2 linked regions of the Homo sapiens genome follow. The protein of the gene in region 2 purifies or fractionates together with the protein of the main gene of each other region. This does not show direct contact. Each region holds a gene or a part of one and is shown on either strand. Other genes may lie near its edges.

Region 1 (3,820 bases), on a different chromosome or scaffold from region 2:
GAGCCAGTGTTCAAGAGCTTAAAATGTGACATGTGTTCTAATGTTTTACCTTCTCCCTCAAACACATACTTATGTACTTAACTATTGCACTTGGACATTTCCCTGGGCTCTCAGTTTAACATATCTGAACAAATCATTATCACTTCCTCTTGAAGACTACAGTTTTTTGTATCTCAGGTAATAGACCCCTGGCACCCTTTGTCTGCCATGCTGGAAACTGCCTCTGTTTTCCATTATGTCAAGTCAGTTCTTTGGTGCCACTGACTTTTCCTCTTAAATGTTCCTTAAATTTATTCTTTTCTTCTTCATTCCTACCATTGCTGCTCTTGTTTTAGGTTTTTATCATATTTCATTTTTTAATAATCTCAAACTGATTTTCTTTCCTCTGAGCTAAACTCCTACTTAAATTTATCATACATATGTTTATTTAAAATGCACTTCTGACCGTCTCACTTTTCTACTTAAAATACATCAGTGGTTTTCCATCATGTGTAGGATAAATTCCTTTCTCTTTGGCATGGCATACAAGGCTTTCATATCACATATTAGGCATTTCATTAATTATTGTTGTATTGAACTCAAACATTCAGTGTGGATAGAGTCCCCAAGTAGGTTGCACTGCCACTCATATATCACTTAATGGTGGAGATTCCTTCTGAGAAATGTGTCATTAGACAGTTTCGTCACTGCGCAAACGTCATAGAGTGTACTTACACAAACCTAAATGGTATAGCCTACTATACACCTAGGATATATGGTATAGCCTATAGCTCCTACTCAACAAATCTGAGCAACATCACTGTACTGAATACTATAGGCAGTTGTAACACAATGGTAAGTATCTGCATTTCTAAACATAGAAAAGGTACAGTAAGAAAACTATAAAAGAGAAAAAATGGTACACTTGTATAAGGCACTTGCCGTGGATGGAGGTTACAGAACTGGAAGTTGCTCTTGGGTGAGTTGGTTAGTGGGTGGTGAGTGAATGTGAAGGCCTAGAATGTTATCGTACACTACTGTAGGCTTTATAAAACTGTACTCTTAGGCTACGCTGTTTGTTTAAATAATTTTTTCTTCAGTAATAAATTAGCTTACTATAACTTTTTTACTTTATAACCTTTTAATTTTTTGAAACTTTTTGACTCTCTTATAATATTTAGCTTAAAACACACACATTCTACAGCAGTACAGAAGTATTTTTTTATATCCTTTAAGATTTTTTTCTGTTTTTAAAATTTTTAATTTTTTTTTAACCTTTAAAACTTCTGTTAAAAACTAAGACAAAGACACAAACACACACATTAGCATGGGCCTATACAGGGTGAAAATCATCCATATCACGGTCTTCTCCTCCTACATGTTGTCCCACTGGAAAGTCTTCAGGGGCAATAACATGGAGCTGTCATCTAGGAAAACTGCACCTTCTTCTGGAATACCTCCTGAAGGACTTGCCTGAGGCTGTTTTACAGTTAATTTTTTTTTTAATAAGTAGAAGGAGTATACTCTGATATAATAGTAAGATACATAGTATAGTAAATACATAAACCAATTACATAGTCATTTATCATTATCAAGTATTACGTACTATACATAATTGAATGTGCTATAGTTTTATACACTGGCAGTGCAGTAGGTTTTTTTTTATACCAGCATTATCTCAAACACATGAATAATGTGTTGCACTGTGATGCTGTGATAGCTATAGTGTCAGTAGCTGACAGGAATTTTTCAGCTCCCTTGTAATCTCAGGGAACCACTGTCATATATGTAGTCTGTTGCCAACCAAACATTTGTTATGTGGCTCATGACTGTATATCCCTGCCAGCACGAGAGGTTCTACCTTAACAGGTAGCTTATGAAGATGCCAAGTGGAAGGATGATTTTCCTGCTCCTTTTGAGAAAAAAAAAAGTTTAAAAACATTCCTTTGGAGCATCATCTTTTGAAGCAAAAGCCATACTGTAGTAATCTTTTAGCTCTTCATATTTCACAAGGAGGTCGGGGAGAACAAATATGTACTTTCAAGAAGACTTTTAAAAAATGTCTCTATCAATTATCCCTTTACTTAAAATTTCTTATATTACTCATCCTATAATTTATTAATATTAAACATTTACTATTTTTTAAAAAATTAAATGTTTATAGAATATGTGCCATGTCTGAGGCAGGAGAATCTCTTGAACCTGGGGGGCGGATATTGCAGTGAGCCGAGATCACGCCATAGCACTCCAGCCTGAGCAACAAGAGCGAAATTCCGTCTTGGGGGATTTAAAAAAAAAAAGAATATGTGCCATGTAAGTTGGTATGCTTAGTGCCCTGGAAAATGAACAAGACAAGATTTCCTGTCTTTAAAGAGATCACAGCAAAGTGGATGGTGCAGAAAGATAAACATTGCAGTAGAGTACGATAAAGGCCACAATAGAGTTATGCCATTCTATTGTGGGAACACTAGAGGCAGGCTATCTTCGAGTTAACTGGAAGATCAAGTCTCAAATCTAGGGAACATGTCCCTAGCTTGTTCAGGCTGCTTTATGGTTGGGCCCCATTTGTCTTCCAGTCTACCCTGTAGTCCAGTCATACTGAACGCCTCACTTTCTCCTGAATGTGGTGTGACACTTCATGACTTTTGTCTGTCTCAGGTGCTTATTTCTCTTTATTTTGCTTAGCATGTTGTTTCTGCTCTTCTTTTAAATCCCAGCTCAATTAGTGCTTCCTGTCCTGCCTAACCCAGAAAGTTAGTTGTTCCCTTTCATGTGCCCACAGTACTCTGCTCATATCCTAATATAAGGTTTATCGCAGTGCATTATCTATTTACATCTCTCTCTCTCTCTTTCTCTCTCTCCCCCTTGATACTCACAGCTCTTCAAAGACAAAGATGGTGACTTATGTGTCCTTGTACTATGATACTTAGCTGGCATATTAGTTAAAGCAAAAATACCAAATATCATGAGTCTTAATTAACTTTACTATTATATGTTATCATATACACTCTTGGTTTATACGCTAGTACACTTTTTCATTTTCTTAATACTTATACCTGCTAGGGATCCTTCACATTTGTTTAATACAGTCCATTTAAATCACAGGTCCTATAGCACCTTCTGTATGCTAGGTATCGTGTTAGGTACTAGGAATGTAAAAATGAGTAAGGTTCATCCTTGCTGACAAGGGGCTCACAATGGAGGAGAAAAGACAGATAAACAGATACCTGCCACAATTTCTACTCAGTACAAAGTGTGATAGATGCTATGATACTAGGAAGCCCAGGGTGCTTTGGGTTAGCATATGCATGACGGTCATACATAATAGTATAACTTGCCTAGTTGCTTGGAGTCAGGGAAAGCATCCTAGAGGAACTGCACTTTGAGTTGAATCTTGAGAAAGGAAAGAAGCAGAAAGGGAGCAGCTTGGAAGGATGTGAGAGACCAGGATGCTCTGGGGAAACTGCAGCTTGTTTATTCTGACAGGACTAAGAATAGGGCTTGAAACAGAAAGCAGGGAGAGTCTAGACTGGATCTGTTAGACAGGGATTACATTGTATCTGATCGGATCTATCATACTGAAGAGTTTATACTGTTAAACTGAAGATAGTGGAGAGCCACTGAATAATTTTCAACAAGCTTCAATCAAATTTATGTTTGTAATGTTTTGTAGCTTCTGTGCTTCCTTCCCTCCTCCTTTTTCATATATTGTCATATTCTATCTGATTATTTCCCTTGTTTGTAAGTGATGCTTTGGAGTTTTCTTTGTCTGCTCAGTTGGAGTGTTCTTAAACACTCAATGTCAGGTATATAACCACTTACCTCTAACCTTCTATGGGAA
Region 2 (3,820 bases):
ATTTCCCATCCAATTTGTCCCCATATCCTGGGCCCTCCCCGCAGGTCTCTGCTCTTGCCCTTCACGTCCCCAGGCATGTCCTCTCCTCTCCTCGGCGTCGCAGTCCCTGTCTCTCCCACCTTCCCCTGCTCTCTTCCTCCTGAGCTCCCAACGTGATTCCTGCTTGTGCTGCTCAGGGGACACTAAGCTTTCTATAGGGAGTGATGTCAACCCAGCTGAAAGCCTCTAGAGAACAAGGAGCTCATCTCAGGCATCCTAGCTACCCCATCCTGGCCCGGGACACAGAGCAGGGCCAGGTATGCACTAGGGCCATCCTCCAAGTCTGTCCAACAGCAGGCCACTGCCTACACAAATGTCATAGGCAGGCAGTGCTCAGAAGACAGGCGTGTGGTGCACAGACAGCATGGCTTGGGAAACAGGGTGGCGCAGCCCCTGTCTTCCTCAGTGACCCTCAGGTGTCCTCTCCCTGGTCTTAGCTACTAAGATCTGATGAGATGCAAGGTCCACTCTAGATCTAAGATTCCATGATTCATGTGTTCATTCACTGAATACAGCCTGTGTGCTAGGCACTGTGCAGCTGGAACTCAGAACAGAGGGTCAGGAGAAAAGGCTATAGTGGAGGCCGAATCTAGAAATATGAGTTGGGACTGGGTGACACATCTTTGTGTGTTTGTGTGTGTGGGTCGGGTATGTGTGTTTGGTCAGACCAAAAAGTACAGAGTCAAGAGAAAACGTGATTGCCCCTGACAGACACAGAGATGCAGAGTAAGAACAAAACAAAGATTTCTACAAAGTGTTCCAGAAGCTTGGAGAAAACCACCATTATTTCCAGCCAGAGCGGTGGCTGGCAGGACGCTGACTGAAAAAGTGGCGAGGCTGGGTGCAGAAGCCTGGCTAAGGTTTGCTTGGGGCCTGCGTGGGGTCATGATTATTCTAAACAGCAAACTGTGGCTGTGTTCAGGGATCAAAGACCAACATTTGGTGGGGTTGGGGTAGGGCATCTGGAAAACAGGGATGGGGGCACAGTGGCGTCTGGAGAGGGCATGGCGCCTGACAGCAGGGGCCCCGCATGGCAGGTTCCGAGGCTCCGAGCTCTCTAAGGCTCCACCCTTACCCTGCGACAGGCGGTCATTGCTCTCGCTGGGTCCAAGCAGCAGGTCCTGGCTGGGTAGACTCTCCGAGTGATTCAGGCAGGACAGCTCCAGGCTGTCTGTGTTCTCCCTTGTAAGGAATGAGGTCCCAGGGGCCAGAGGGAGGGTCATGGGGCGGGGACTGGTAGCAGGGCAGGGTCTGCAGAGACAGGGAAGATGGTGCTGGGAGGAAAGTCACCAGGTGAGAGGCGCAAGGCTGCTCCCCAACCCCACTCTATGTCCCTTAGCGACAGAAGTCAGGCTTCTCACCCTGGGCTCAGGCATTCTTGGATGTCAGACACCCAGGCCTTCACATGCTGGGCATCCACTGTCTCCATGATATACTCGGATGGACCTTCCACCTACAGAGATGAGACGACGCCTCAGCTGGGGCAGGGGCAGGGAGGAGGCTTAATCCATGCCTAATGAGAACAATGTATGCAGGCTGTCTACAAACAAGATGCATTCGAATTCTCTCTGGAGGCCGGGTACAGAGGCTCACACCTGTAATCCCAGCACCTCTGGAGGATCACTTGAGCCCAGGAGTTGGACCAGTCTGGGCAACATAGTGAGAACCTGTCTCTAAAAAAATTGAAAAATAAAATAAGGCGAGGCCGGGTACGATGGCTCACACCTGTAATCCCAGCACTTTGAGAGGCCAAGGAGGGTGGATCACAAGGTCAAGAGTTCGAGACCAACATGACCAATGTGGTGAAACCCTGTCTCTACTAAAAACAAAAATTAGCCAGGCGTGGTGGCAGGCGCCTGTAGTCCCAGCTACTCGAGAGGCTGAGACAGGAGAATCGCTTGAACCCGGGAGGCGGAGGTTGCAGTGAGCCAAGATCATGCCACTTCAACTCCAGCCTGGGAGACAGAGTAAAATGCCGTCTCAAAAATATAAAAAATAAAAATAAAATAAAATAAAATAGGCCAGGCGCAGTGGCTCACGCCTATAATCCCAGCACTTTGGGAGGCTGAGGCGGGCAAATCACGAGGTCAGGAGATCGAGACCATCCTAGCTAACTTGGTGAAACCCCGTCTCTACTAAAAATACAAAAAAATTATCCGGGCGTGGTGGCGGACGCCAGTAGTCCCAGCTACTCGGGAGGCTGAGGCAGGAAAATGGCATGAACCCGGGAGGTGGAGCTTGCAGTGAGTCGAGATCGCGCCACTGCACTCCAGCCTGGGCGACAGAGCGAGACTCTGTCTCAAAAAAAATAAATAAATAATAAAATAAAATAAGGCCAGGCACAGTGGCTCACGCCTGTGATCCCAACACTTTGGGAGGCCAAGTGGGGTGGATCACTTGAGGCCAGTTTGAGACCAGCCTGCCGAACATGGCAAAACCCATTTCTGCTAAACATACAAAAAATTAGCTGGGCATAGTGGTGCATGCCTGTAATCCCAACTACTCAGGAGGCTGAGGCACAAGAATCGCTTGAACCTGGGAGGCAGAGGTTGCAGTGAGCCAAGATCGCGCCGCTGCACTCCAGCCTGTGCGGCAGAGCAAGGCTCTATCTCAAATGTAAGTAAGTAACAAAATTAGCCAGGCATGGTGTCACATGCCTGTAGTCCCAGCTCCTTAGAGGGCTGAGGCAGGACGATCACTTGAGCCCAGGAGTTCGAGGCTACACGAGGCTACAGTGAGCTATGATCAGGTTGCTGCACTCCTGACTTAGAGGGAGACCCTGTCTCTCTAAAACAACCACAACAACAAAAACTCCACAGTTCTCTTTCAAGTGGAGGCATTGTTTTTGAGAGTAAGAACATTTCCCTGTCTTCCGCTATCCCAGAAAAGCTGCAGCCCCAGGGACACACTCTCAAGGCACTGGACACATATATATACCTCCTTTCGGCGACGCCACTTGCTTAAATGCGCTGAGGGCTTTCTCCTTAACACAAGCACTGCCGGCGGCTGGGAAGTTGAATTCCTACCTTAACCACAAACGTGTTCTCCCGGTCAGGCATCTCCAGGGCTGTGGTTGTCCGGACGTCTGTGATAGAAGAGCAGGGGATGCTGAGTCGGGGCCGAGAGGCCTAAGTCAGGAGAAAGAAACAGATCTGGGTGTTTGGTTTCCAAAGACCACTCTTCCCCTCCCTCCAGACATTCATCTTTCCTTCTACATCCTCGGGAAGTTAGACAAAAGGCAGTCACACTGCTTTCTCAGTCCTGCCCGCAGCTGCTAACACAGAGCCAAGAGCCAGCTTTACCAACAAAAAGTGAGCGACACCAGGGCCATGGGCTGGTAAACCCCAGAGCTTATCTGCAGGGCTGTGACCACTCTGAGCACTCTCTCACTTGCTCTCAGTCACCCACCCTCCAAGGGGCCTCACCTTGGGTGGTACAAAGAACTCCAGGCGACTTCCTCCTCCTCCTTCTCCTTCACTTCGAAGCAGCAGGCGACACTTCTGCCACTGAGGCTGCCCTCCTCCCCCTGAAGGAGGCCCAGCCACCCCTCCTCCCCGGCCCACTCCGGCTGGGTCAGGGGCTGCCTCCTCAGCCCCCATGAAACTCAGCAGCTCTTCCCTCTGCACCATCCCTGCTCCATCCTTCAAGGCGCCCCCTCCCCGACTGAGTCTCAGCCTCTCAAAACGGTGAGTCCATCTTTCCCCAGGGGACGTTCCATCACTGACCAGTCCCCTACCAACGGTCCCAGCCCCGCCAGAGGAGTTGGAGTTGCTGTTTCCAC

What was found.
Region 1: the proteins of SH2B1 (region 2) and FRS2 purify together in Homo sapiens (co-immunoprecipitation; one study listed by IntAct). This does not show direct contact.

The regions. Positions count from the first base shown.
Region 1 is NC_000012.12:69,564,349-69,568,168, forward strand, and holds part of FRS2 (fibroblast growth factor receptor substrate 2), read left to right. Parts: exon of another isoform or gene 1-2,292; intron 2,293-3,820. UniProt on the Homo sapiens protein: Adapter protein that links activated FGR and NGF receptors to downstream signaling pathways.
Region 2 is NC_000016.10:28,866,678-28,870,497, reverse strand, and holds part of SH2B1 (SH2B adapter protein 1), read right to left. Parts: coding exon 3,465-3,820; intron 3,168-3,464; coding exon 3,066-3,167; intron 1,493-3,065; coding exon 1,401-1,492; intron 1,291-1,400; coding exon 1,115-1,290; intron 1-1,114. UniProt on the Homo sapiens protein: Adapter protein for several members of the tyrosine kinase receptor family.